Linked DNA regions of Homo sapiens. The protein of the gene in region 2 purifies or fractionates together with the protein of the main gene of each other region. This does not show direct contact. Each region holds a gene or a part of one and is shown on either strand. Other genes may lie near its edges. The genes, in order: TAOK1, SLCO3A1, ALDH18A1, NRXN3, EXOG, ACSL3 and JAG2.

Region 1 (4,030 bases), on a different chromosome or scaffold from region 2:
CTACTAAAAATACAAAAATCAGCCAGGCGTGGTGGCAGTCGCCTGTAATGCCGGCTACTCAAGAGGCTGAGGCAGGAGAATCACTTGAACCCAGGCGGCAAAGGTTGCAGTGAGCCGAGATCATGCCACTGCACCCCAGCCTGGGCAACAGAGTGAGACTCCATCTCAAACCAAACCAAACCAAACAAACAAAAAGCAGCACAAGAGCCGGGAGTGGTGGCTAACTCTTGTAATCCCAGCACTTTGGGGGGCCGAGGTGGGTAGATTGTCTGAGGTCAGGAGTTTGAAACCAGCCTGGCTAACATGGTGAAACCCCGTCTCTACTAAAAAAATATATACAAATTAGCCAGGCATGGTGGCACACACCTGTAATCCCAGCTACTCGGGGGGGTTGAGGCAGGAGAATCCTTTCAACCTGGGGGGAGGGGAGGCTGCAGTGAGCCAAGATCACACCACTGCACTCCAGCCTGTATGACAGAGTGAGACTTCCGTCTCAAAAAAAAAGCGGGGGGTAGGGGGGAGGCCGGGCAGCACAAGAAAGGGCAAACAAATATGAAACCCTGTAGCCACAAAGAAATAATCAGCATATTCTACTTAAAAAAAACCTGATAAGCAAATATCTCCCTTATTCTACATTTAAATTGGCATAAAAACAAATTATTATAATCTTCTGATCCAAAAGTAAGACATTATTGTTTACTTTTAAAGTAATAAATGTGATCAGGTGCGGTGGCTTATGCCTATAATCCCAGCACTTTGGGAAGCCGAGGTAGGCGGACTGCTTGAGCCCAGGAGTTTGAGACCAGACTAGGCAACATGGCAAGACCCTGTCTCTACAAAAAATAAATTTAAAAATCAGCCAGGAGTGGTGGTGTGTGCTTGTGTTCCCAGCTACTTGGAAGGCTAAAGCAGGATTGCTTGAGCACGGGAGGTCGAAGCTGCAGTGAGCTATGATTGTGCCACTGCACTCCAGCCCGTGGAACAGAATAAGACTGTCTCAAAAAATACACACAAAAAATAAAAACATAAGGCCAGGCACGATGGCTCATGCCTGTAATCCTAGCACTTTGGGAGGCCGAGGCAGGCGGATCACAAGGTCAGGAGATCGAGACCATCCTGGCTAACATGGTGAAACCCCGTCTCTACTAAAAAAAATACCAAATGTTTGCCGGGTGTGGTGGTGGGCGCCTGTAGTCCCAGCTACTAGGGAGGCTGAGGCAGGAGAATGGTGTGAACCCAGTAGGCAGAGCTTGAAGTGAGCCGAGAGCGCGCCACTGCACTCGAGCCTGGGTGACAGAGCGAGACTCTTTGTCTCAAAAATAAATAAATAAATATAAAATAAAAACATAAAAAAAGTATATTTTCAGGAAATGATTCATTTTAAATCCTACTCAACTAAATGACTCAGTTAAGGGTAACTGATTATAATCAATGTCATCATTTAAACTAATACCCATTTAGTGACCATAAACAACAAAAGATAATTTTATCCTAATGCTTCTATGAGTTGGTCACCATTGGATATAATTAATAAGCAGAAAATTTGCTTGGAAAGTTTTATGACATAAGTACCTCTTTAAGCTGCTCTTTTCGAAGTTTATACTCTCTTTTCTGGGACTCGAGAAAACTATTCAGTTCTTTCTTCTGTTGGGCCTGAATATGTTGCTGAAATTTTTTCTCTTCATTGGACATCACTTTAGCCTATATGAAGTTTAAAAAATGAATCAAATTTAGTTAAGTAGATAAAGTAGTGGTTTAATATACATCATTAAGAATACCTTTTATTTTCTAAGAACAAGAAATCATTAGAAACATTACCAAAATAAAAGACTGAACCAAATTATAAACATGTGCTACTTGGCATCCTTATAATTTGAACTTCATAGAATCAGTAAGATGAAACTCATCTTTGAAATGTTGATCTCTTACAGGGTCAAAAATGTTGTCAACTTTTTATTTCATTTAACAGAAGTATACCTTCCTCCCAACCCTCAATCCCTCAGTAAAACAAAACAAATGCTATATTTTATTTCTGATTCTATATGCAATACATGTTCATTGTAGAATATTTACAAAATACAGAAAAACAAGAAACATCTTACATAATTTTGGCATCCAGAGATAACCAATGTAAACATTTTGGTGCATATCTTTTGCAATTTTTTCTTTTTTTAAAATTATTATTTTTGAGATGGAGTCTTGCTCTGTTACCCTGGCTGCAGTGCAGTGGCACGAGCTCGGCTCACTGCAACCTCCGCTTCCCGGGTTCAAGTGATTCTCCTGCCTCAGCCTCCCAAGTAGCTGTGACTACGGGTGTGTGACACCACGCCTGGCTAATTTTTGTATTTTTAGAAGAGATGGGGTTTTGCCATGTTGGCCAAGCTGGTCTTGAACTCCTGAGCTCAGGTGATCCACCCACCTCGGCCTCCCAAAGTGCTGGGATTACAGGCGTGAGCCACCATGCCCGGCCTCTAATTTTTTCTATAAATGTTCATGTCTCAAACACACACACATACACATACACACATATATTTGCATGTATATAATTAAGTAGGTATTGTGGCTCATACCTGTAATCCCAACACTTTGAGAGGCTGAGGTGGGAGGATCACCTGAGCCCAGGAGTTCAAGACCAGCTGGGTAACAGGGCGAGTGCCTGTCTCAAAAAATATGTTACAGGGTCTCACTCTGTCACCCAGGCTGGAGTGCAGTGGTACAATCATGGCTCATTGCAGCCTCCTCCTGAGCTCAAGTGATCTTCCCACCTCAGCCTCCTGAGTAGCTGGAACTAAAGGCGTATGCCACCCTGCTCAGCTAATTTATTTTTTTTGTGTGTGGAGACAGAGTCTTCCCATGTTGCCCAGGCTGGTCTTGAACTCCTGGGCTCAAGTAATCTTCTCACCTCGGCCTCCCAAAGTGGTGGGATTACAGGTGTGAGCCACTGCACCCATCCTGGTTATATACTTTTAAAACAAATTTGTTACCACATTGCATATCTGCTTCAGGAATTGTTTTCCTAAATATGTTAGTATCGCCTTTTCCCAAGCTATTAAAAATAATATCTATCAAGTGTGGTGGCTCACATCTATAATCCCAGCACTTTGGGAGGCCGAGGCAGGAAGGTCACCTGAGGTCAGGGATTTGAGACCAGCCTGATTAACATGGTGAAACCCCTTTTCTACTAAAATAAAAATAATACAAAAATTAGCCAGGCATGGTAGATGAAAAATTAGCCAGGCATGGTAGATGCACCTGTAGTCTCAGCTACTTGGGAGGCTGAGGCAGGAGAATTGTTTGAACTTGGAGAGCAGAGGTTGCAGTGAGCTGAGATCACACCACTGCACTCCAGCCTGGGCGACAGAGGGAGATTCTGTCTCAAAAAATAATAAAAATAAAATAAAAAATAAAAAAATGAAAATATCCAATGCCCAGAGGATTTTAAATATGTATACATTGTTTCATCAAATTATTTCAAAATCAAGTATGTATTTATACTATAAATTATTTTGTCAGGGTCCCTACTACTATAAGAATGTTCTTTTTTTGTGAAAAGGGAGAAGAGGGTAGCTATGATAAATAATGCCTCACTGCAGACTACCTGGACATATTTTAATGATATTGTGTGAATTTACTGAGAAGTCTACATTCTACTTGACAAACATGGCTATCAAAAAAAGTAAAACAATGGGACACCAAAAACATTAGAAGAAAAGGTTTCACATAACAAAAATCCTAAAAACTAACTTTTATCATGTAAAATAATGACAATTATTTGTCAATAATCAAATGAGCTCAATCTGAATCTGAATCTTTCATAACTTATAATCTTCAACATTATCTGTATTTATTACAGTAATCTTAAATCATTCTGATATTAAAATGCTGCCAGAAATTCAAGGGTAGTTTCCAAAAAATACAAAAAAGAGAATAAAAGTGACTTTTTGAGACCTAAATCACCTAATGATAGGAGATTTAGCAAACTCCTCAGATAACCAGGAAACAAAAAGCTTAAAGTAACTGAGTAACTTAC
Region 2 (4,030 bases):
AGCTCCCTGGGAGGGACTTTTGTTGGTGCTAATGTCAACGAGCAGGGTTATACCATTACTGTTAAAGCAACTGTGGAATACTGTACCCTATGAGAAGTACTCTATCACATGACTATTTGTTTAAACCTCACAACCATCTGTAAGATAAGCTTGATCATTATCCCCATTTTTCAGATGAGGCTATTGAGGCTCGAGTAAGTGAAGTTGCCAGGAGCTGGGAAATAGCAAGTCTAAGTTCAAATCCAGGTCTTCCAACTCCAAGTCCAACATTCTTTCCACCTACCCTCAGCCTTCAGCACCCAGTGGCCACAGACCACAGCAAGAGATACTGAGGACCTCCCAAAGTGAAGCATCAGGGTACCTGCCCCGCCCAGCCAGTCCTGCCTGCCCTGCTTTAACCTCCTTCAAGTACCCATGGACTGTAAATGATCAACATGAATCACCATTCCTGCAGTGGGCTCCTCTCCCATGTGACTAATTTTTATAGCATCTTTAAGATGAAATGGATTGCTATATTTATAAGGGAATAAACAGAATTAGCAACTGATATTTAGCTTATTACTTGCCCTTAAAAACTTTTTACCTCCCAGACAAAAATGTCCATGTAGAATAGGAAACTACTTGAATATGCAATTCACTAAACCAAAACTAAAGTTTAATTGAAATAATTTTATTTCTCATTGGTTGGGGCTACACGGTTATTATGTTTGCAGTAAATATGCATAACCATATTATTATTAATAGTAATAGCTAATATTTCCTGGGCACTCACTATGTGCCAGATATTGTTCAAGGTGCTTTACATGTACTGACTCAGTTCATCCTCACAGCAAAACAGAGGGTAGGTACTATTATAACCCCAGTTATAAAATGAAAAATTGAGGTACACAGAGATTAAGTAAACAGCTCAAGGTCACAGAGCAGGTAAGGGGAGGACATAGGCATGAATCCCAGTCTTCTAACACTCATCGAATAAGCGACAGCTGCCACAGACACTTGCCTTTCTCCACCTTGGAACTGTAATCATTTAACTTGGAGTTTTAACCATTAAGCAATAATTTGTCTCATGCTAACACATAAACACTTAGGCTACATAAAATACAAGTGTCTTTGAATCACATCAATTCATTTATCCTATGAGCCAAGGTCCATGATTCCACTGTTTTTCCTGTTTATATCTGTTTTCCAGATACAGACATAGAAACCGAAAATAAAAATGAATTGAAAGAGTAAGGATGCTATCTTTCTGGCCTACAGATTACCAAAGGCATTTCCGAGAGGCAAGAAAATACCGAGATTTTCTTCAGGGGAGAACGGTTCCAAATCCATGTGTCAACCATACAGTCAAAGTTACCATTGAAATGTCCCTTCGCACCTTCAAAAAGTATGGCATACAATATTCATTGTATGCAACGCTGTACACAAACACGTATGTAAATATGCAATGCATGCGGCAATGTACAGAATAGAGTACATATGCAGAAGAGAAGTACTTTGACTCCACTTTAGAGAAACATGCTTATTAAATGATGCATGTAGTGAAATCTGCGCGAGTTGGAACTAAAGCCAGAGAAATGCAGCTAGTAGGGAGTTTTATTCTTCACTCTTTCTGCATGAAATGCAGCTGTATCCTCATCATTTTTGCAATACTACCCTTGTTCATCCAGGCCAATCTGCTAAGAGAATACAGTCCCTGATCAAGGCAGCACCTCAAAGTTTGCTTTTAGGTGTGCAAAATAAATTCACAGAGACCCTGTTGGTGGGGCTGCCTTTGCCCAGCAGTTCACCAATGACTTCGTGCAAGAAGCAGCCCATGCAGCATAACAGAAAACACGATTCCAGCAGCACCCAAGATGAGCTGCAAATGCTGGGCAATTGATTAGCAAGGCGGTGCCACTGCAGAGAGGCCTCTTGGCGATCCTTTTCATAAGGTGTCTAAAATTGAATGAGGGGAAGAGTTAACAAAATGCAGGATAGAGCCCTCGCTCATTTTACAACTCATTCAGTTTCTTCTATTGTTAAATACACCAACAAAAACCCCCTCACAAACAAAGATAAATACACAAACCTGGCTGAAAAGAATTTTCAGAAACACCTTTTTCCCTTAATAATTATTAACATTTTGAATCTAGCTATAAGGAAAAAAAAAATCAAGGTAATTTTATTTCTTACTACCTGGGGCTACATAGTAATTATGGAAATGGCAAGGAATTTTGTCACTTTGAGTAAGCATAAGTGTATAAAATAATTTGATTAAATAAAATACGGTTACCTTAGTCATCATAGTAATTTGACAAGGACTTTAAAAATGTCTCTCTCTGTTGAAAATGTCAACAGACAGTTTCCTGAGCTGTCTGCTTCTGGGTTGAATATGCAGAAACTCATCTTCGAAATGATGTTTCTTTAGAAAAAAAAAAGGAGTAACAAACCTAGCAGTTTCGCCTCACCCATTAATTGCAAGCCCACTTGACTATTCTCAGGCTGAAAGAAAAAGTGTGACTACAAAGCAGTGAGATAGAGCCTCATTAACCACACTCAGTCATCTATGTCATTATTTTGTCACCACAACCTCAAACTTATTTTTCTATAACTCTAAATAGGGAAATACCTACCCCTTGTTCACAGGAACTCCCTTTGTGCCCCACCCAGGAAACTAGACTGGCCTTTTTTCAGTTTTCAACCTGAGGAAATTCAAATGTATTTGTATGTATGCCTCAAACTAATCATCTAGAAGTGTCAGAGGCTTTAATTTCCTGTACACACCCTTATCTACTCCAGTCCTCAGTAATTTGATACCACACAGAAACCTCTATATGCAGGGCTACCCTCAGCGAGTGGCTTAAAACATTTTAGGGGGTCTCTGCAAAACACCAATAGGCACACACAAAATGACTTTCTCCCCATGCAGTTCTCATATGCCTGCATCTTCTCCAACCAGTCCAAGACTTAAGCACATGTTACATCCTTGCAAACAGGACTGGAGCCACTCGAAGCCAAAACCCAAGTAGAAGAAAATTAAATTGCATTCTCTGTTCCATACAAAATGACTATCAAACCGAGCAGGCCTCTCCTCTTATGCTGCAAAAATTATGTCATAGCCAGTCAGGAGGTTTAGGTGACTATGATGGAACATCCCTGTGACTATTGGTTTATCTGAAGCATGGTTTCCAGTTAAGATGTTTGTAACCGTAATAGATTTCAGAATCCACAGTTGGCCCAGGTTGCACCTGGGTTACTTTATCTAGATCACTGAGTCTGGCTTTCAGGATCAGTGTCTTTCTGTACTGCCTGACACCAAGGCAAAAGTTGCAGGCCCCCAGCCTAGCCTAACAATTGATGGCCTTATATACAATACAGTTTTCCTTTGAGTTTCCTCCCTGGGCAGGTTCTTGGTGGAAAACAAACACATGCATACATACACACACACACAGACACACACACACATTTTCTCTCTCTCTCTCTCACACACACACACACACACACACACACACACACACACACACGAGTCCTCCTTCTCAAAGTTGCTTCTTAAATCACAGGCAACCTTCTGCTTCAGTTCTGCAGTTGGGAAGCCTACACTAGTGTCATTCAGGACACTGAGAAATTTGTCTTTTCAGAAAAAAATAAGGAAATGAAACTGCAATATTTTAAGGCACCTGGGGAGATGAAATAAGAAGGTGGACTCTGGGAATCTAATAGGAAATAACATCGTTGGCATAGAATTTGTAACCACCCTCCTCTCTGTGAAAGGGAGCATTACTGGCACTGTCCCAAGGCAAGTCCTTCCTCAAGTATCTGGAAATGCCTCATTAGAGAGGCAGGCTGATTGCCAAGGTAAGGATCACGTATAACGCACACTTAGCACGTGGACCCTGCCCTGTGGTCCCCTACAGACACAAGGTCTCAGGTTTCCTAAGAAAGCCATGATGAATTAAAAGGAAGAAATGTGCCTTTCCTGCAAACAGCCTGCAATATTTCATTCTCCAATTATCCACAGAGAAGTCTCGCATGGCTGAAGGAGCAAACTTTT
Region 3 (4,030 bases), on a different chromosome or scaffold from region 2:
TGGCTGATGCTGCATGGACTCTTAATGCTACCATCATTCAAAACAAAATAAAACAAAAACAAACTCTCAAAAGGTTTCATCCCTGGGAAAAACCAAACCAAAGCAAAACCATAGCTCCCTGACTTGAGCTTCCTCACCTGGCTCCAGGCACTTTAAAAAAATTAAAGACCAAAGTTGTCATTGGACTGTGAAGAGAAACCAAATAATAAAGAAGAGTGATATAAATAGAGATTTATACTGTATTTATACTAACAGAAAAAAAGCTAAGACTACAGAAAGTGGGGTCCCCAGCCATAGGCAATGGGACAAGTCCGTGCCTTTCTGTTTTACCTCACTGACTTGAGGACACTCTGGTGTAATACCAGAACATCACTGTGGGTACAAACAGGCAAATGATGGAGAAACAAAAAAAAGTAACAGGAAATGAAGAAGCAAAACCTGAAACAATATATGTATATATAACAATATCACCTGTGTAAAATAACATCTGTGCATGTAGTGTACATGTAAAATAATATCCATAATATAAAATAACAGCTATTTTACATCTTTACAGGTAAAGGAATTTCAAAATAAAATAATTTGGGAGTTAGATTTTTTTTTCAGTTGTTTCCTGAAGTGACTGTTATTGAGATGTCTCTAGTGTGTAGTTGTACAGTTGATTAAGAATATAATTCAAAAAAATTCAGGAGATTTAGGTAAAAATGAAACAATGTAGAAAGAAGGTTCTAGAACATTTAGGGGTAGCCACCAAAAATTCGTAAGTCCCATGAGGACTGGAATCATGTCTGATTTGTTCACCACAGTATCCCCAATGCCCAAGACTGCTAGGTACACCATAGGTGCTCAATAAATATTTGCTGAATGAGTGAAAAACCAACCAATCACCAGCATTCCTCTTTCCCTTCAAAGCTTAATAAATATCTGCTATAAAAGGCAACCAACCAGGTGCAAAGAGAAGCAAGCCACCTGAAATCAAAGAAGCCAGTGAAATAAAGACATTTAACTTCTCTGTCTTCAGAAGTGTTAGCACTTGGAATCCTAAGTTATTAGTGTAACAAGAACTGATATTTACTGACAATGTATTATGTACCAAACACTATACTAAATGCTTTTCATATATTTTCTCACTGAGCCCTTCCAAAAATTATCTGAAATAGGCACTGATATTATCCCCATTTTCAGATGAGGAAACTGAGGCACAAAAAGGAAAAGAAACTTTCTTCAGATCTCAAGTAGCAAGTGATGAAGCTGACACCATATTCCAATAGTCTGGCTCCAGACCCCTTTGTTCCACAACAACCACCCTCACAGGTCCCACACCCATTTCAAAGCCCAGCCTCTCACCTGGGCAGCACAGATGCTGTACTGGGTAAACATAGCCTCATACAAGGCCATCAGCCCACTCTGTCCGGCAGCTGCACAGGCTCGTGCCTCTAAGACTGGAATTGCCTGTAATATACCAATGAGACAAGGTGTGGTAGGGAATGAGGGAAGAAGACCTGAAGATCCATTTCAATGTGTGGGGAAGCAGCACTCACCATTTCTTTCAGCTGGTTCTGCCCCGAGTGGAGGGCCTGCCGCACGCTCTGAGACAGAAGGATCTCATGGCGCAAGCGTTGTTTGCCAAAGGCTACGGCTCCACTGGTCACCAGCATCATCTCTCTGCCCTGATTCTGCAGCACTGATACCTGGGCATTGAGAAAGGAAAGGGGACTGTAAGTTACCGTACTGTCTCTTTCATCTCTTCACAAGGGATGGAGGTAGGGTGGGCTATCGAGTAGATCCCAAATGCTGGTTTATGAACCAGCATGTGGCTGGCTCTGGAAGAATCAGCCAGATTGGTAAAAACACAGATTCCTACATCCTGTCTCAAATTTCTATTTAGCAGGTGGCAGACAAAAATCAGACATTTTAATTTATTTTTTAATTAAAACAATTGGCTGGGCATGGTGGCTCATGCCTGTAATCCCAGCACTTTGGGAGGCCAAGGCAGGCACAATGCCTGAGCCCAGGAGGTTCAAGACCACCCAGGCAACATGGCAAGACCCAATCTCTACAAAAAGTACAAAATTTAGCCAGGCATGGTAGTGCATGCCAGCTACTTGGGAGGCTGAGGTAGGAGGATCACCTGAGCTCAGGGAGGTTAAGACTGCAGTAACCCATGATCGCACCACCACACTCCAACCTGGGCAATAGAATGAGAGAGATGCTGTCTCAAAAACAACAACAACAACAACAACAACAACAACAACAACAACAACACCCTAAGAAAAAAATTTTTTTAAGGCAGAGTCTTGCTCTGTCGCCCAGGCTGGAGTGCCGTGGCATGAATGTGGCTCACTGCAGCCTTGGCTGCCTAGGCTCAAGTGATCCTCCTGCCTCAGCCTCACAAGTAGCTGGAACTACAGGCTCATGCCACCATGCCCAGCTAATTTTTCTTTTTTAACACATTTTTGTAGAAACAGAGTCTCACTATGTTGCCCAGGCTGGCCTCAAACTTCTGGTCTTAATCCATCCTCCTGCCACGGCCTCCCAAAGCATTGGGATTACAGACATGAGCCACCATGCCTGGCCTAAGTAAGACATTTTTAATGAGGAAATTCTGGTGTGTAGCCAAGTTTGACATCTATAGGACTTGACTGTATTAGGTTGGTGCAAAAGTAATTGCAGTTTTACCATTGACAGTAATGGCAAAAACCACAATTACTTTTGTGCCAACCTAATATTTGCAGGGAGTGTGTAATGCAGAAGGCCTAGTTCCTCCAAGAAATGAAGCCCAGAATAAAAGTCCGCAGGTAGGAAATGCAACGCAGACTCAGTAGATGGCTTCTCAGGTTCTAAGGCTTAACCCGGGTAAAGGAGGCTGTTCTGGTGGCATGTCTAATCCTATGGGTTGCCTCTGCCTACACCAGGGGCACATGCTGACCTTGTTCTGCTCTGTCTGCCCAAGACCAAATGCGGTCACTTTGTTTCCTACCTTAAGCAGACCTACATGAAAAAATTAAAGACTCAAGATGTAATAAAGTCAATATTCCTAAACTGTCCTTTCCTTCTGATGTCTGAAACCTTTTAACTGGTCCAGCTGTTTAACAAACAGCTATGATAAACCATGATTTAAAACAATAATAACTTTTTTTTTTTTGAAACACAGTCTTGCTTTGTCACCCATGCTGGAGGACAGTGGCACAATCATGGCTCACTGTAGCCCTGACCTCCAGGACTCAAGCAACCCCCTGACCTCAGCCCCTTGAGTAGCCACCTTGGCTTCCCAAAGTGCTGGGATTACAGGTGTGAGCCACTGTGCCTGGCCCCGACAATAATATTTTATCACAGAAAGTTTCAGCTGGCTGAGGTGGGACGACTGCTTGAGGCCAGGAATTCGAAACCAGCCTGAGCAAAATAGTAAGACCCCATATCTATGAAAAATTAAAAAAAATAATAGCCAAGTAGCATGTGCCTGTAGTCCCAGCTACTCAGGAGGCTGAAGAAGGATCCCAACTGAGCCCTGGAGTTCAGGGCTGCAGTGAACTATGATTACACCACTGCATTCCAGTCTAGGTGACAGAGCAAGACCCTCTCTCTAAAATAAATAAAAAGAAAAAGAAAAAGAAAATTTAATACTTAACCAAAGTGCTGAGAATAGTATTATAAATCCCCATGTACATACCACCCAGTTTCACCAACTATCTCTCATGGCCAACTTCCCACTCTCCAATAACCCCTCTATACCCTCACCATTGTTTTAATACAAATTCCAGGCAACAGACATGTTATTTCATCTGTAAATAGCTCAGTAATAACTGCTAAAAGATAATCATATATATTATATATAATATATAATTATATGTCTTTCTCTCTCCACAAATCCATTATCTGGAATATTTCAATGATTTCCTTCATATCAAATAGCCAGTGTTCATATTTTTCCAATTTTTTTTTACCTTGCTCAAATTGAGATGCAAATTAAACCCTGCATTACAAATTAATTGAAGTGTCTCTCAAGTCTCTTTCATTCATGGGTTCCCTT
Region 4 (4,030 bases), on a different chromosome or scaffold from region 2:
TCCAGACGGATGTCATTATTCTTATAAACAACCTGTCAAAAGCCAAACAAAAGTGCCATGTGAATCAATCTTGCAAACAGTATCCATCCATCACTCACTGGGCACCTGGAAAAATGACCCAAAAAGAGGCTTCAGGACATAGCCCAAAACAACATGAGAAACAATGAGACACAGGAACCAAAAAGGTATCTGAAGAAACATCTGATGTGCACACAAGCTCCAAAAAAGCCTCTATATTTCTACAGAATTTCTTTTGTCTCCTGGCCAATTTCTTGTGTTGTCAGAAAGTTATACAACATAAGCTTGCAAATAAAAATCAAGAGAGATCGAGTTGCATGGATTCACATACTTCATACAAAGTGATTTACTGAAGCACCCTTAGTAAAATACCAGAAACAACCTAAATGACCATCAATAGCAGATGGCACAGCGTTATAATGGAATATTAGGCAGGCCTTGCAAACAAGGTATTGCTTTTGGTTTTGATGTGGAAGCTCTCCAGGTCACATTGTTAAGTGAAATTGTCAAGGAACAGGATAGAGGGTGCATTATGTTATCATTGTGTAAAAGTGTGGGGGCGTGGGGGCATTATATGTATATATGCTCCAGTAAGCATAAAGTCTCTTTGGAACTATAAAATTGTCATTGGGGAGTATATTTGCGGGATTAATATTCTGGAGTGGGAGGGTGACTTACTTTTCACTGTGCCCTCTTACAGTGTTAGACTTTTTTTCAACCATGTGGATATATTACTTGAAAGAAAAGAGTAAGTGTTAAAAGCTGGTGGGGACAGAGGTCTGTTTTTGTTTTTATTTTTTGCACATTGCATGTGCCCTCTGTACAGTGGTAGAATGAGACACCCTGAAGCCCTATTTCAGCCAGTCAGTCAAGGACATTGATTTAGTTGAGAGTCTGATTTTACAAAGAATACTGAACCAGATACTAATTCACCTTGCAAGGGGGTCCAGCAGAGCTTTCTGCCTCCATGCCCTACCCAAGGTTAGTGTACACTTCTGCAAAGCCATGGCCACTGTCCTGCAGAGTGGGTAGGTAGGTGGAGAACGTGAGGATGGCAGTTAAAAAAATCTGTTATGACTGTCTAACAGCCACTATGGAAAACAGTGTGGAGATCCCTTAAAGAACTAAAAGTAGAACTACCATTTGATCCAGCAATCCCACTACTGGGTATCTACCCAGAGGAAAAGAAGTCATTATAAGAAAAAGATACTTGCACAGGCATGTGTATAGCAGCACAATTTCCAATTGCAAAATTGTGGAACCAACCCAAACGTTCATCAATCAACAAGTGGATCAAGAAAATGTGATATATATATATGAATACTACTCAGCCATAAAAAGGAATGAATTAATGGCATTTGCAGTGACCTGGATAAGACTGGAAACTATTATTCTAAGTGAAGTAACTCAGGAATGGAAAACCGAACATTGTATGTTCTCACTGATATGTGGGAGCTAAGCTATGAAGACGCAAAGGCATAAGAATGATACATGGACTTTGGGGACTTGAGGGGAAGGGTGTGATGAGGGTGAGGAATAAAAGACTACAAATAGGGTGCAGTGTATACTGCTTGGGTGATGAGTGCACCAAAATCGCACAAATAACCACTTAAGAACTTATTCATGTAACCAAACACCACCTGAACCCCAATAACCTATGGGAAAAAAATCTGTTATGACTTTCTAAACCAGGTATAATCCATCTAAAAGCAGAAATTAATCTTTCTCCATGAAATTAGAATTTCAAAAAAGTTTTACTCTTATTTGAACTGAAATTTGATACAGTACCCTGGAATGGTTTTTGGCGCTCTGATCTCTGAGCAATGTCGTATCCATAAAAACTTAATAAGCAGAAAACAATGGAAGGGAAATAGACAAGGATCTGAGTATTGAGCGTCCCAACTATTTTCCTATTTTCTTTATATTACCTTATTCAAATTCTAAGTCAGGACCCAGATTTAGGTTTGAATTCCACATTTACTACTTACAAGCTATGTGACTTTGGCAAAGTAAATTTTCTGAGTCTGTTTCCTCTCCTGAAATTGGGAACATAGGAATAAACAAACTATTTATTTTGTAATAATAAAATGATTTAAAACATGTGAAGCACTTAGGAATGCAATATCATAAGGGCACAAAAGTCGCAGCTATTTGGAGGGTTATTGTTAATCTCATTTCGCTATTTCCACAGCCCTGAAAAGGTTGCATTATCATCTCCAAAACAACAATGGCTAATTTCTAAAATAAGCCTCATCTGTCCATATCTGTGAGACAAAGTTAATTGGATGGGTCACTCCAGCACATATCATATAATCCCCAATATTTAAATGTAGAATTAGTTCCCATCTCTCATCACCAGGAGAGAATCAAGCAAAGCTGTTTGCATTCTAATGGATATTACAAGAGTGATATATAACTATGGCGAAGCATTGAAAATGACTCACTATTATGTAACCTTGACCGTGGACCTAACCATAGTCAATAACATTGAAAATAATGATACTAACACTTATTAAGCACCTACCACCAGGCACCATGGTAAGGATTTAACACCTCTCCATCCCATTAGATACAGACAACACCCATTTGAGATACCTGTAATCATTGCCTTATTTTACAGATGCAGAAACAGACACAGAGAGCAGTTAGGGAACCGGCCCACAGGCACACAGCTGATAAGTGGCAGAGCAGGACTTGAACCTAGGCATTTGGGCCCCAGGGTCCATATGCTCAGAACCAGGCCCCACTAGCAGCACCTGTGAGGCTTATCTTTAACATTACATGGAAAGTCATGCATGCTCAACTTCACAATTCAAAAGCTGAATTTTTCATTTTAGCTAAACTGGGCTGACCATGTGCAAAGGGAAATATTGCAGGATCCTCAGGCAATCACTCAAGTGAGTAAACCAGAAAAGAAATCATAAAAGTTTAATGAGTGTCAGCTTCTCCTTTCTAACCTTCACTATTATACCTTAGCATGTGAGAACTCTTTGTCATAAACAAACTTTGGCTTTTTCTGCATTTGGGTTAAATGCCTGTGACTAGAGTTCCTAGTAAAGGTTAATTATTAATGTATAACAATAGGTCATCCCAAAGGGACAGAAGGAGGTTTGGCTCCATGGAACAATAAATAGAAAGAGAGATCAGGCATTGCTACAGCAGGCTGGGGACAGAATAAAAAGGAGGGAAAAAAAAGCCTTTTAACAAGATACAAGAGCAGTGAAGAGGAACTCTTCTGTGAGAAGGGTACCTAACTGAGACTGGGAGAGAAGGTGAATAGCCGGAATGAAGATTTCTGAAGACATAGGTAAGAGAAGCAAGGGCCAGAAACTGGCCAGACAGAGATAACCAGACTTCTCTCAAAGGCTCTTTGAGGGTGAGTGCTCTATCTACTCCATGGCCCTGAAATTACCTGTCTATTTATATGGAGTTTTCACTGTTGTGAATAAAAAGCCAACACCACTCTCACTGACAGCTGAATAACCCTTCTGAGTCCCATTTTATTTATTCCAAAGGTAAGAGCCTCGATATCTGTTCCACAAACTGTCCCTCTTTCCCAGCTCACAGGGCTGTTGTCAAGATCAAGTGGGATGTTAGACATAGTAGGACACAGACAATTCTAAACCGGCACACAAACCTAGGAAGAAATAATCCTATATCTTCATCTCCCATGGTGTTGGGGTTCTGTTGGAAATGGATAGGGTCCTGAATTGAGGTTCTGTGAAGGTTTATCTACCAAGAGGAAAAGGACAGGAGGGCAAGGGACTTGTAGCCCAGTGATGCTCAACTGGGACTCTCCATTGTTAATATCTTCACCTTCCCCACCTGCTCTGTGCAGAACCACAGCCACAGCCACGCAGAAGTGTACTGGCACCCTGGGTCAGCATGGAGGCAGGAAACCCTGCTGGACCCCCTTACAAGGCAAATTATTGTCTGGTACAATGTTCTCTGTAAAATCAGACTGTCAACTAAATGAATGTCCCCAAATGGCTGGCTGAAATAGGAAGAGATG
Region 5 (4,030 bases), on a different chromosome or scaffold from region 2:
ATCAATTATGGTGATGTGTGCAAAATGATTTGTATAACTCTTTCATTCTCGCAAATTTATTAACTGACATTCTATGGTATGCAGAAGCTTTTCTTTACACCCTATGTATTTACATATTTATTGAGTATGTATTCTTATTTAATTCAATAGGTTTATAATCCATTTTATTTTGATATTCAATAGCACCAGATACAGTAAGTGGGAGCTCCTTCAAGCTGATTCACATGTCCTTCTGACATATCCCCACCATTTGTCTGAGCACTTCCTTGGCTTTCTGATATATGATGTTCCATTTTGTACTCTCCCTGTACCACCCCTTAAATCAGTCATTTCTCTAAGCGCTGAGTCTTTTCAGGAGATGCTTTTTAGAAACAAATATCTGGGTCTCAAGATGTGTTCATTGCTAATGACATACCAATTCTTCTGGGCCTTTTCAGCAGAAACAACTAGAAGATATATTTTTATCAGTTCTATTTTTAAAAATTATATCCAACTTAAGAAAAACAATACATTTTCCACTACGGCATTTGGGCAACACATATTTTACAGAAATAGCCACACAAAAATCTATGTAGTGAAATGCTTGTAATTATTGGTTAATTTTTCGTTTTAAACATTGTACAAATTTTTGTTCTACTACACAGTAGGCTAGTGATATAAATTTTTCAATTTTATAAAAACAAAGCACAAATAAAACTGTAATTTAACCATTTAAGATATACAAGTCAAAGCTAGAAGAGCCTCTTTTCTGACATAAAATAAACAGGATTTAACAAAGACCAAGAATAATTAATATTTGAAAAATAATACAGGGGGCTTTAAGCCTTTTTTTCTCCTAAGACTATAAAATATACTAAAATTAAATTAGCAAGTTAATCAGAGGAGAGAAATTAATATGGGAGGAGAGATATTAAATGAATTAATTTTAAAATACTAATTCCTTTGACTTCCTTCACTCCCATATCTACTGGAATTTTCCAAGGATGTACAAATCCTTGAAAACAACTACTCTATCATTTCCACTTAACAAAAAGAAGTAGTTGGGTCATAATTTTGTGTGGAAAAAGAGAAAGTGGGCTATTCATATGGACCTATACAAATCCTTGGATGCTTGGACATTACTGCACATCTGATCTAGACAGGCTGATAATAAGCAAGTCAAATGGACAGAATATACTCTAAAAGTTTTGGTTTTTTTTTGGGGGGGGGGTGGTTCCTCAATCTGTTCCTCAGGTTATTAAATTTTATCACAGACTTAAGTAATCATTTACCTAACCAGCATTTATTAAATATCTACTTTATTTCCAGAGCTGAGCTAGGTGTTCCCTCCCCTCCTCTTTGGCCTTATTAGCAAGTCCTTCAGTGCTTCTTTTTACTCACTCTACCACCTCTTCTGCTTCACTCCACCTGTTCCCTGCCCTCTGTAAGCCTCACAGTATAGTATAACATTTCAGCCACCCTCTTGGAAGAATCCTCAGGATATTTCTGCATGATAAGATTAAATGTTAAACTTTTTCTAAGAACACCTGCTCTTCAGGTATACCACTTTGTAAATTGCCAATATGAAAGGCTAGCTAAGAATTTCCCAGCAACATTAGATGTCTGAAGCTCTCACACCACTAATTACACTCTCCTATCTTTAATCTCTCTTTCAGTCTATAAAAGTGCTCACATATCTTGCATATTAAAAAAAAGAAGCTTCTAGAAGAAAAGCTTTTCTTCCCATTTATTCAACTCACTGTAACACTGTAATCTGGTTGTTTTTATTTTATTTTTATTTTTATTTTTTTCGAGGTGGAGTCTTGCTCTGTCGCCCAGGCTGGAGTGCAGTGGTGCGATCTCGGCTCAGTGCAACCTCCGCCTCCTGGGTTCAAGCGATTCTTCTGCCTCAGACTCCCAAGTAGCTGGGACTACAGGCACACGCCACCACACCCAGATAATTTTTGTATTTTTAGCAGAGACGGGGTTTCACCATATTGGCCAGGCTGGTCTCGAACTCCTGACCTCGTGATCGCCTGCCTCGGCCTCCCAAAGTGCTGGGATTACAGGCATGAGCCACTGAGCCTGGTCTGCAATCTAGTTGTTATCCTGGAACTTCTCCCTCTTCCTCACTCAAACAAGTTATTTATTCATGGTTACTCTTTCCTGTGTTCCTCTATTATTCCTCACTCCAACTGCTTGTATGTCCTAACTCATCTCCTTGCCTCTAATCTCTTCTTCAAATGCTCCCTTTTCCCACCTATCTCTTTACACGCTGCTGCCAAAATACTCTTTATAAAACCCAAATATCATATTTCTCCCACGCTTAAAACAAATCTATGACTTCTTAGTGCCTAAAAATTAAAACCCAAGTCTTCATCATAGAATAGAAAGTCGCATATTATCTCACCCGTCCACCTGTTGTTATGGAACTCTTCATACCCCTTGAGCCACCCACACTGTTTTGTACCATAAGCTCCAATTTTTATGAATGATATATAAATCTCAAAACCCTGATGTTGACCACAAATGTCCTGTGCTCATCCTGCTCCATCCTCTGGAATCCTCAGGGTCCACTCCTGACTCTTATCTGTCAAGGTATAGCTCAATATCACTTCCTCTTTTAAGCGTTCCTGACTCATATGAGTAGAGCCCATCAGTCCTTTCACAAGACCACACTGTGTGTGTTTACCTCTATTACAGCATGTCACACTTTAATGTAATTAATTGTTAACATCTGTTTTCCACTCTAAACCGTGAGTTCCTTGAAGTCAATAGTTGCTTTTATCCATCACTATATTCCCTATGCCTATCATTCCTAATAGGTGTTCAATAAATATTGTTGAATAAGTGAAATTAAAAAGTAGAATGCAAAATTTTTTTTGAATGATAAAAATAAAAATAAAAAGCAGAATGGAAAGTGAGATTATAATCTCATACAGATAACATAAACCTGACTATTAAACATCCTTACCTGGTAACTAACTATTTTCTTTCCATCGCCTCTAGTCTGAGGTAAGGTCAAAGGCCCAGATACCACCCAAACATCTTCAAACCTTTCTGTCAGCTCTCGACAGTACATTTCTATTCTGAAAAACAAATAAAAAAATGTATGATATTCTCACATATATACATGTAAGACAGCAGCAAATCATATCAATTCCTATGAAAGATACCAAGAAAAACTGCATTTGAGAAATTAAACAAGAACATGGCACAAAACATTATAAGCATATAAACAATTATTTTCCCAGTTTGCTTACTGCACAGAAAAAACTTAAAAATCACATACACTAACAAAACTATCTACATTTTTCTTTATGTGCGCTCAGAGTACATTCTGGAATTCAAATTTCATGAACTTAAAACTTTTTTTATGCCATAGTTCCCAACCAGCTTTCAAGAATTATGTATCATTCCAACAAGATGATATACTTTATTTAACCATTCCTCTTGCAGGACAATTGGGCTTATGTTAACATTTCTTATATAATGCAACGTTGTATCAATTCCTTAGGATAAATTTCAAGGACCAGAATTACTGAATGAATTTATTTTAAAGACTCGTCATCATATGTAAAACTAACATTTTTAATAGGGTTATATCAATTTACTCTATAAGCTTTTAATAGGGTTATATCAATTTACTCTAAAAAATTAAAATACAACACAGCAGTTTCACAACAATCTTTATAATGCTGGGATTTATCATTTAAAATCTGTTTTTGTCAACTTACCAGATAAAAATGGCAAGTATTTTTTTTTTCTTTTTTTTAGATGGAGTCTCACTCTGTCACCCAGGCTGCAGTGCAATGGTGCAATCTCAGCTCACTGCAACCTCTGCCTCCCGGGTTCAAGTGATTCTCCTGCCTCAACCTCCCGAGTAGCTGGGATTACAGGTGCCCAAATGGCAAGTAGTTGTAATATGTACTTTCATATACATATGAAAGTATGTATATGACTGCAGTTGGAAGTTTTTTTTTTTTTTCTTTTGAGACGGAGTCTCACTCACTCTGTCACCCAGGCTCAGCTCACTGCAACCTCCATCTCC
Region 6 (4,030 bases), on a different chromosome or scaffold from region 2:
AATTGAGTTAATAGTTGAGTTAAATACAACACATGAAAATTTGAAACTACTAGTTTCTAAACAGTCATCTTATTTTAATCCAATTAGAACTTCCCAAAGGAAAAAAGGCAGACACTATGAATGAACAAAGTTTATCAATTTAACAGTAGGCACAAAATCTCAGTTGCTAAACCATAAGTATTTATGTTTTCAAACTTCTATTCTGAGAAAAAAATTAAACTCTAAAACCCAACATCTTCCATTTGTTGTATAAAATTATAAATACAAGAGACAAATTATTTGAAAGATTCTGCAACATCTTAAATATCATATTGATAAACTGACAGAAGTATTAAGTCATGCAATTAATAGAACAAATCCCTATATAAGAATGAGTTACTGCTGGGCCAGTGGCTCATGTCTGTAATCACAACACTTTGGGAGGCCAAGGAGGGTGGATCGCCTGAGGTCAGGAGTTTGAGGTCAGCCTGGCCAACATGGTGAAACCCCACCTCTACTAAAAATACAAAAAATTAGTCGGGCATGGTGGCGCACACCTGAAATCCCAGCTATTAGGGAGGCTGAGGCAGGAGAATCACTTGAACCCAGGAGGTGGAGGTTGCAGTGAGCCGAAACCATTGACACTGCACTCCAGCCTGGGCAACAAGAGCAAAACTCCGTGTCAAAAAAAAAAAAAAAAAAAAAGTGAGTTACTACATATTAAGATTTATTCTTATAGATAATTTCAAAATGACTCCAAGCCTAAATTTATTAAATATTCCCACTAATTCTGCTAAAGATAGCTAAAAGACATCCAAGCCTTAGAATCTTTCTTTATTTATTTATTTTGGAGATGAGAGTTTCGCTCTGTCACCCAGGCTAGAGTGCAGTGGCGCAATCTTGGCTCACTGCAACCTCCACCTCCCGGGTTCAAGTGATTCTCCTGCCTCAGCCTCCCGAGTAGCTGGAATTACAGGCACGCACCACCACGCCTGGCTAATTTTTGTATTTTTAGTAGAGACGGTTTCACCATGTTGGTCAGGCTGGTCTCGAACTCCTGACCCCATGATCCGCCCGTCTTGGCCTCCCAAAGTGCTGGGATTACAGGAGTGAGCCACTGCGCCCGGCCAGAATCTTTATCTTTACTTAATGTAGAGGAAAGGTGCATCCCAATAAAACACAGATAATTTGTATATTTTAACAGGATCAAATAAATTTTTAAGTGACCATTATTTTAAATGGCATGAGAATAAACAGACTTCTATGGAATTGCAGTGAAAATTTCCTTCTAATAATACAAGGTTGAAGCCCTCAGAAAAAAAAAGAAAAAAATCATTTAAAAATCCACAATTTCATAAAATAAATTTTATAATTTTACTTCTGCAAAATAAAGTTATGATCACTCCTAATTTATTGACATTATTCACTTATTAGTACATTTCTCAAGTTTTTGCCATAATTCTTACTTGCATCTACGTAATAAGTAAAATGAAAACAATAATAGTTCTTCAGAAACATCTTTGAAACAAGAAAAATAAATGCATTCATATAGTTCGAGATAAAACACGTCTATCACAAAGGACAAAAATGAGCACTTATGGGTGTTTACATTCTAAAGCAAGAAAGTGAAGCACTAATTTTCAAGTTTAATACTTTAAAAATTAATGCTCTGTGGTTAAAATAGTTTATTACCTTCCTCCCAGTTTTTTAATTTGATTTCACAGCAAACTAATGGTGCTCCCACTCTGCCAGTATTGTAGTCCCACACTAGGAATTAAATGAAAAAAAGGATATTTGAGAACAGTAGCTAATACACTGCTTCATTTTTCTAAATTACCAAAAATGATTATTTATCCTAAGGCTGAGGTATCCCCAGCTATTCCTTAAAAGCAGAAGTCACATATTGGTGAAGCACAGGCCGTGAGGCCTGTAGAGTCGTATTTTTTGGCCTACATTGAGGTTTTTTTTTTTTTTTTAAATTAGTTATTGTCATTCTTAAAAAATCAGGAAATTTTAGATGTAAGTGTGGAATCGCCAGCAACAATGGGCCCACATTTCAGGTACAGCAGAACTGACGGCCTCTGTTAGAGAGGGCATGCCTGCTCCTGTTCCCTCAGAATCAATCCTTACCCATCACATTGTCTTACATTAGGGCCCACTTGACTCATTTAAATAGGTAGCTGCCTGGTTCTTGAGTTTGAAATCCCTGTCTTAAAGGATGATGAAAACAATGGTTTACGTCTATTCTACTTTCTTATTAGGCCTCACCGATGTGCAGTATAAAACACCTCTCTAATCTTTTCCCATGTAATGTATCACCATTTCAAAGTGAGATCTCTGCAGGCTTCCATCAGCTTATGCTATCACACCCTATTTAAAATTAATACAGCAATAGCTCAAGAGCCAGGCTGAAGAATAAGACTGGTGGCTTTCAAGGATGTGAGGAAAGAACCCTCCACTATTATGAATTACTATTGCATTATGTTTCCTCTTCAAAGACCAAATATCAGAAATGAAAGGCTGATATTTAACATTTTAAAGACTTTTATTTAAAACATAAACTGTTACTGATTAATCATTCAATTTGAATCTTAAAAATAGAAGAAATTAAGGATCCTCAGAAGAAAGAAATCCCCTATGCATGTATTTAAGATTGCTTATTTCCTACAAAACATGACTTAGAACTAGCTTCCAAAAATATACGAAAACAGAGAACATAACTGAAAAACAGAAAAATGAAGTAATACATGAAAATGGTATACAGAGCCACTCAAAATAAATAGGGAAAAATCAGTCATGAGGTTTTGTATCTATCCGTATATGGCAAATACAAAGTAGGAGAAGCACAGCTGTATCCTGTACCGGAAAGCAAAATAACTTTCTCCCATAAAAGGGACGCATGAGGCCCTATGCGATTCATCTCAGAACTGCTGATTAGTTGGTAGATCTCCTCCTCAAACACAACCACATGATAAACTCTGGTAATAATATTCCCTAGACCAGAACTTAGTTCCTTCTCTAACACTTACAGAAATCCTCATAAACATTTCTGAACCTGAGCCTTAATATACTCACCTACACAAATAAACAAAAGCACCTTAAGTTTTCTACATAAAAAGAAATTTAATCACTGATGTGAGAAAATAAATGTACACAAAACAGTCAGTGTTTGTTACTAAAGTTTCTCTTCCAAAATGCTAAGTGGTTTTTAATATTACCTATCAGTTTGATATAAAAACTTCTCCAGATAAATTATTGACTCCAGATGCATCTAATACATTCTAAAAATTGATATCAATGATCATAGTACTTGGAATCCACCATTATTCTGCCTCACAAACACCTTACTACTCTTCTCCTATATATTTGCAGAAAATATCCCATACCCCAAAAAAACGTCTGGCATCACACTCCAGCCTCTGACCATGGAGAACACTACCTTCGGAAATTGTTCCAGCCCCAGCAGATTCAGTGAGCCCGTATCCCTGACCAACAGGACAGCAGAAACAGATGTTCATGAATCGCTGCGTGGTTGCAGAAAGTGGAGCGCCACCACACAACAGGAGACGAATATTTCCCCCTAGCAAGCTTCGAACTTTCCGGAAAACAAAGCTAAAGAAAAAAATTAGAGAACCACAGGATTTTAAAACTGAATGGGATTTTCCAAATCACTTAAACTAATCCCCCAGTTTTGATATGAGAGATTTTGAGATTAAGTTACTTATCCAAGGTCACACAGCCAATTTGGAGAGTCTCTTGAGCCCCAAATGTTAATTTTTTGAAGTTCAACAAGGTAAAGAATTTATTATTTCCTCTTAAGAGCTTTTCAAGTGATATTCGAATTTGAATTGTCAGGTTTAGTTTTGTATAGTGACAGGAAAACCCTTGCTTATGGCCACTTTTATATCATTATTTACATAAAATATTTATCATATATTAATACTGAACAATTCTATCATCTTTATGAAATGTATTAAAATCAAATTAATTTTTGCTTTAATGTACTTTATTAGAAATGTGTATAATTTGTATACCACAATCTGTTTTTGAA
Region 7 (4,030 bases), on a different chromosome or scaffold from region 2:
CACCCAGCAGCACCCATCCATGTCCCCCACCCCCTCTGCGGCCTCAGGGCACCAAAACACTGCACGTCCTTCCTGTGCCTGGCCATGGCCTCCACCAGCCACACTGTGCCATGGCCACACCCACTGCTCTGCACACCCACCCACCATGTTCCAGAACATTCCCTCCCCTCTCCGGGCATGTCTCCACCCCAGTCTCACCCGACCCCCTTGGTATCCATTCACATCTGACACCCCCCAGGTCCAGGGCAGGTGCCAGTCCCAAAGCAGGCCTCCCAGGGCAGACTAAGCCCACGGACTCTCCTGCTGCCTGTGACGTAGGGACACAGAGACAAAAACAGAGCAGGGGACCGGGCGAGGATGCAGCTGCAGGGGAAGCGGGCTCCACACCACAGCCCTGCATCTCCCTCATGCTGGCCAGGCCCAGGGAGCAGTTCCACGGGTCTGCGGCATGGACAGCGAGGGGCCGCAGGGAGACAGGCCTGCCCGCAGTCCTTCCGCACCAGGACTAGCCTCGCCAGAGCCTCTGTCCAGCATAGCCAGGACCTGCATAGTACGGGACCCAGGGCCCACCCAGGTGCTGCTCCCCACTGGGCACTCACCACGGCCACCTCCACAGCACTGGCCCCCGAGGACGCCCGGTCGCAAAGCAACACCAGCAGGCGGTCCCGTGCCACAGCCCTTGTGGCTGGCAGGGAGCGGATCCCGGAGCAAATGGCGCCCACCGTGGTGCCCTGGGCAGAGACAGGCAGTGCGTGGGCAGGGCAGGGCCGTGAACCTGACACCTACATCCCTGGACTGGCGCTGTGGGTACACGTGGGACACACCCTACAGCCCGCCCAGGAGAGCACAGCAAGGATGCCAAGGGCCTGGGGGGGCAGCTTCCCACCCGGCTGTGCCCTATACCAGGAGGCAGGAGTGACGGTGCCCACCCGCCCATCCTCAGGGCGGACCCAGCTCCACCTGCAGGCCAGTGGGGGAAGGAGAGGCAGGGCGGGGTACAGTGGGTCTCCTCCAGTTCTGAGCCCCTCCTGGGAGACAGGGGCCCAGCTCCAAGCACACAGCAGGCAAAGGTGGCTCCTAGGCCAGGGCAAAACTGCCCACGGAGCTACAGCCCAAGAGCTGGGGCCAGGCAGCCATGGCGCCGTCAGTCCAGGCCCTCAGGGCAGCTGGACAAACAGGCACCCCCAGCTGGCTGCTCTCCCAGCCTCCTCTGCCACCTCCACCCAGCACCAGGCCCAATGCCCCTCTCATCTGACCCCACAGGGCCACTCTCTGTGACCAAGAGTGACTCTGCTCAGCCAACCAGGGCCTCCCTGCCCTGCGGGGCTAGGCTTTCGCCATGCCACGAGCAGATGCCGGCGTGTGGCCTCTGCAAGCTCAGATGCCACCAGGCCCCTCACCTGGGGCACGTGGTCACGGTTGAAATGCAAGGTGAGGCGGGCACAGTTATTGTCCAGGTGGCCGGAGCGTGGCAGGCAGGGGGTGCTCGGTGGCTCTTCTGCGCCGCACTCCCCCCAGGCCTCACAGGGTGGTCGCAGACACTGGCCTGGGGCCTTCTCCAGGCACCTTTGCCCCAGTGGGCACTGGGCGCTCAGGGCCTCGGGCTGGCCGGCCAGCAGACAAGGCTTCCATCCGCACCACACCTGGGCAGGCACGCACAGGAGGGTCAGGCGCAGGCGCACAGGAGGGTCAGATGCAGGCACACAGATGAGAACCCACAGGCAGGCACGGGCCCCATGCCAAGGAGGGACACCGCCCAAGTCTGTGAGCCCCAGGGCCCAGCCCACCCCCTACCCAGGGCTCCCAGGGAGGCAGGCCAAGCTCGACATCAGAAAGGGCAGGCGGAGCAAGGCAGGACCCAGACCAGGCCTGTTTTCCCAACTGCACATCGAAGCATGGGGCCTGGCTGAGCTCTCGCCTCCCTGGGTGTCCCTGAGGGCAGACGGCTCTCAGTCCATCCGGACCCCAGCACCCGCCTCCTGATCTCACAGAGTGGCCAGGGTCAGCGTGCACCAGCCTCGGGTAGGGCAGGGCGGCTCACGGGCTGCCCTCACCTTGCTGCAGTCACGGCGGCCATCCAGGCAGCGGCAGCTGTTGCAGTCTTCCACCCAGGAGCTTCCGTGTGGGAACGGAGTGCCCCGGGACCAGCAGGATCTCCCGAACCCGATCACTGTGGGGAGAAGGGGCTCGAGGGTCAGCAGTGGGCATCTGGCCCTCGGGGCTGGGTGTCACCCATGCCCCCCAACCCGCCCCAACCCAGGGCAATCACACGGGGCCTACCTTCCTGGCACCGGGGGCCGGCTCGGCCGGGTGGGCAGCTACAGCGATACCCGTTGATCTCATCCACACACGTGGCCCCGTAGGCACAGGGCGAGGACTGGCACTCGTCGATGTCTGCAGGGAGAGCCACCGCTGCTCAGTGCAGTGAGGCCAACGCCCACCGCAGGACCGGCATGGCCTAGGGCAGCGGGGAGCCAGTGGCACACAGGCGCAAGCCCCAGGACAATGAGGAGCAGCCCCTGCCCCCGAGCCCAAGCTGCTGCCTGCCTGAGGCCTTCCTGAGCCCAGCCTGACCCTGGCCCAACAGCACCCTCCTCCGTCTGCTTCTGCAGTGGGCCTGTCCCATCCTGGATTAGCCCCAGCTGCTGCGTCGGACCAGCCAAGGGGTGCTGGACAGACAGCTGGGCCAACACCCAGGGACAACAGCCCTGCGGCCACAGAGGAGCCCACGTCAGGCTGCACGCTCCAACCCCCACAGCTCCCTGGGCCCCGGACTGGTCCCCCAGGCTGGGGCTCCCCACTTAATCACTTGGCAGGGTATACAGCAGGAACCCCACAGGGCACAGACATGTGGGGAAACTGAGGCTCAGAAGAGAGGCAGGAAGTAGTTGTGGCCACACTGCCCTTCAAGGGACGTGGACGTTGATGTCCCCAGACTCCTGACACCGCGGCTGGGCTGAGGGGCTCCCAGGGCTGGGGCTGTCTGGCCACTCACTGATGCGGCAGTCAGGCCCCGCGAAGCCAGGTGCACACTCGCAGCGGAACCAGTTGACGCCGTCAACACAGATGCCACCATTGTAGCTGCAGAGCAGAGGGTGGGCATCAGGTGGCCCCCCGTGGTATGCCAAGTCCCACCCACCCCTGCTGTGGCCCCCAGGGTGCCACTCACCAAGGCAGAGGGTTGCAGTCGTTGGTATCTGGTTTGGGAGAAGAGAACGCAGGGGATCAGTACCCACCCCCCAAGCGTGCCAGGCACTGTCCAGGCTGGCTTGGCGTGATCAGGCTGTGGGGCTGGGGAGGGTCATCAAGGAGGGTGCCTTTTGCTGGGGGCAGGGGCAGCAGGGGGAGGGGCTGGCAGAAGGGACTGGGGGGCGAGTCGGGGGCAGGGATGTCATCTGGGTGGAGGAAAGCGGCCCCCGCCCACACCCCTCCCACACTCACTGTGAGTGCAAGTACGACCCTCCCAGCCGTCCCGGCAGATGCAGGAGAAGGAGGCCCCGCTGCCCACGCAGGTGCCACCATTCACACAGGGGTTGGGCAGGCAGCTGCTGTTCTTGGCTGTAAGGAGAGGAGGAGGAGGGAGCGTCTCACCTGGCCCTGGGCTGGCCCTGGGTCTCCATACCGCGCCCCCAACCCAGACAGGGCAGACAGACCCGGGGGCAGGGGGCAGGGGGCAGGTGGCAGGTGTGGCCCTCAAAAAAGACCCCTCGGCCCATCGCGCCCGAGGGAGCGGTGCCTGGGAGGGCATATGCCCGGCGGTCGCAGAGGCAGCGGGGGCTCCTCACCGACGGCGCAGGTGCTGCCCTTCCAGCCGGGGGGGCAGGCGCAGCGGAAGGTGTCGCCGCTGTCGTAGCAGGTGCCACCGTTGCTGCAGGTGTAGGCATCGCACTGGAACTCGCCTGTTGGCACATGGGCCGCTCAGCAGGCAGGCCCCAGACCGCCAGGGCCAGGGTCCTGGGGGCAGCCCCAGGCGGCCAGGGCCTGCGGACACTCACGTGAGTGGCAGGTCTTGCCCTTCCAGCCGTCGTCG

What was found.
Region 1: the proteins of SLCO3A1 (region 2) and TAOK1 purify together in Homo sapiens (affinity purification with mass spectrometry; one large-scale study listed by BioGRID and IntAct). This does not show direct contact.
Region 3: the proteins of SLCO3A1 (region 2) and ALDH18A1 purify together in Homo sapiens (affinity purification with mass spectrometry; one large-scale study listed by BioGRID and IntAct). This does not show direct contact.
Region 4: the proteins of SLCO3A1 (region 2) and NRXN3 purify together in Homo sapiens (affinity purification with mass spectrometry; one large-scale study listed by BioGRID and IntAct). This does not show direct contact.
Region 5: the proteins of SLCO3A1 (region 2) and EXOG purify together in Homo sapiens (affinity purification with mass spectrometry; one large-scale study listed by BioGRID and IntAct). This does not show direct contact.
Region 6: the proteins of SLCO3A1 (region 2) and ACSL3 purify together in Homo sapiens (affinity purification with mass spectrometry; one large-scale study listed by BioGRID and IntAct). This does not show direct contact.
Region 7: the proteins of SLCO3A1 (region 2) and JAG2 purify together in Homo sapiens (affinity purification with mass spectrometry; one large-scale study listed by BioGRID and IntAct). This does not show direct contact.

What each region holds. Positions count from the first base shown.
Region 1 is NC_000017.11:29,508,535-29,512,564, reverse strand, and holds part of TAOK1 (serine/threonine-protein kinase TAO1), read right to left. Parts: intron 1,702-4,030; coding exon 1,573-1,701; intron 1-1,572. UniProt on the Homo sapiens protein: Serine/threonine-protein kinase involved in various processes such as p38/MAPK14 stress-activated MAPK cascade, DNA damage response and regulation of cytoskeleton stability. Phosphorylates MAP2K3, MAP2K6 and MARK2.
Region 2 is NC_000015.10:91,856,503-91,860,532, reverse strand, and holds part of SLCO3A1 (solute carrier organic anion transporter family member 3A1), read right to left. Parts: intron 1-4,030. UniProt on the Homo sapiens protein: Putative organic anion antiporter with apparent broad substrate specificity.
Region 3 is NC_000010.11:95,635,746-95,639,775, forward strand, and holds part of ALDH18A1 (delta-1-pyrroline-5-carboxylate synthase), read right to left. Parts: intron 1,692-4,030; coding exon 1,542-1,691; intron 1,453-1,541; coding exon 1,348-1,452; intron 1-1,347. UniProt on the Homo sapiens protein: Bifunctional enzyme that converts glutamate to glutamate 5-semialdehyde, an intermediate in the biosynthesis of proline, ornithine and arginine.
Region 4 is NC_000014.9:78,705,219-78,709,248, reverse strand, and holds part of NRXN3 (neurexin 3), read right to left. Parts: intron 468-4,030; exon of another isoform or gene 33-467; coding exon 1-32. UniProt on the Homo sapiens protein: Neuronal cell surface protein that may be involved in cell recognition and cell adhesion. May mediate intracellular signaling. Functions as part of a trans-synaptic complex by binding to cerebellins and postsynaptic GRID1.
Region 5 is NC_000003.12:38,505,892-38,509,921, reverse strand, and holds part of EXOG (nuclease EXOG, mitochondrial isoform 1 precursor), read right to left. Parts: intron 3,069-4,030; coding exon 2,954-3,068; intron 1-2,953. UniProt on the Homo sapiens protein: Endo/exonuclease with nicking activity towards supercoiled DNA, a preference for single-stranded DNA and 5'-3' exonuclease activity.
Region 6 is NC_000002.12:222,926,578-222,930,607, reverse strand, and holds part of ACSL3 (fatty acid CoA ligase Acsl3), read right to left. Parts: intron 3,592-4,030; coding exon 3,419-3,591; intron 1,747-3,418; coding exon 1,672-1,746; intron 1-1,671. UniProt on the Homo sapiens protein: Acyl-CoA synthetases (ACSL) activates long-chain fatty acids for both synthesis of cellular lipids, and degradation via beta-oxidation.
Region 7 is NC_000014.9:105,144,331-105,148,360, forward strand, and holds part of JAG2 (protein jagged-2 isoform a precursor), read right to left. Parts: coding exon 3,996-4,030; intron 3,900-3,995; coding exon 3,786-3,899; intron 3,559-3,785; coding exon 3,442-3,558; intron 3,198-3,441; coding exon 3,170-3,197; intron 3,082-3,169; coding exon 2,996-3,081; intron 2,395-2,995; coding exon 2,281-2,394; intron 2,171-2,280; coding exon 2,055-2,170; intron 1,644-2,054; coding exon 1,401-1,643; intron 732-1,400; coding exon 600-731; intron 1-599. UniProt on the Homo sapiens protein: Putative Notch ligand involved in the mediation of Notch signaling. Involved in limb development.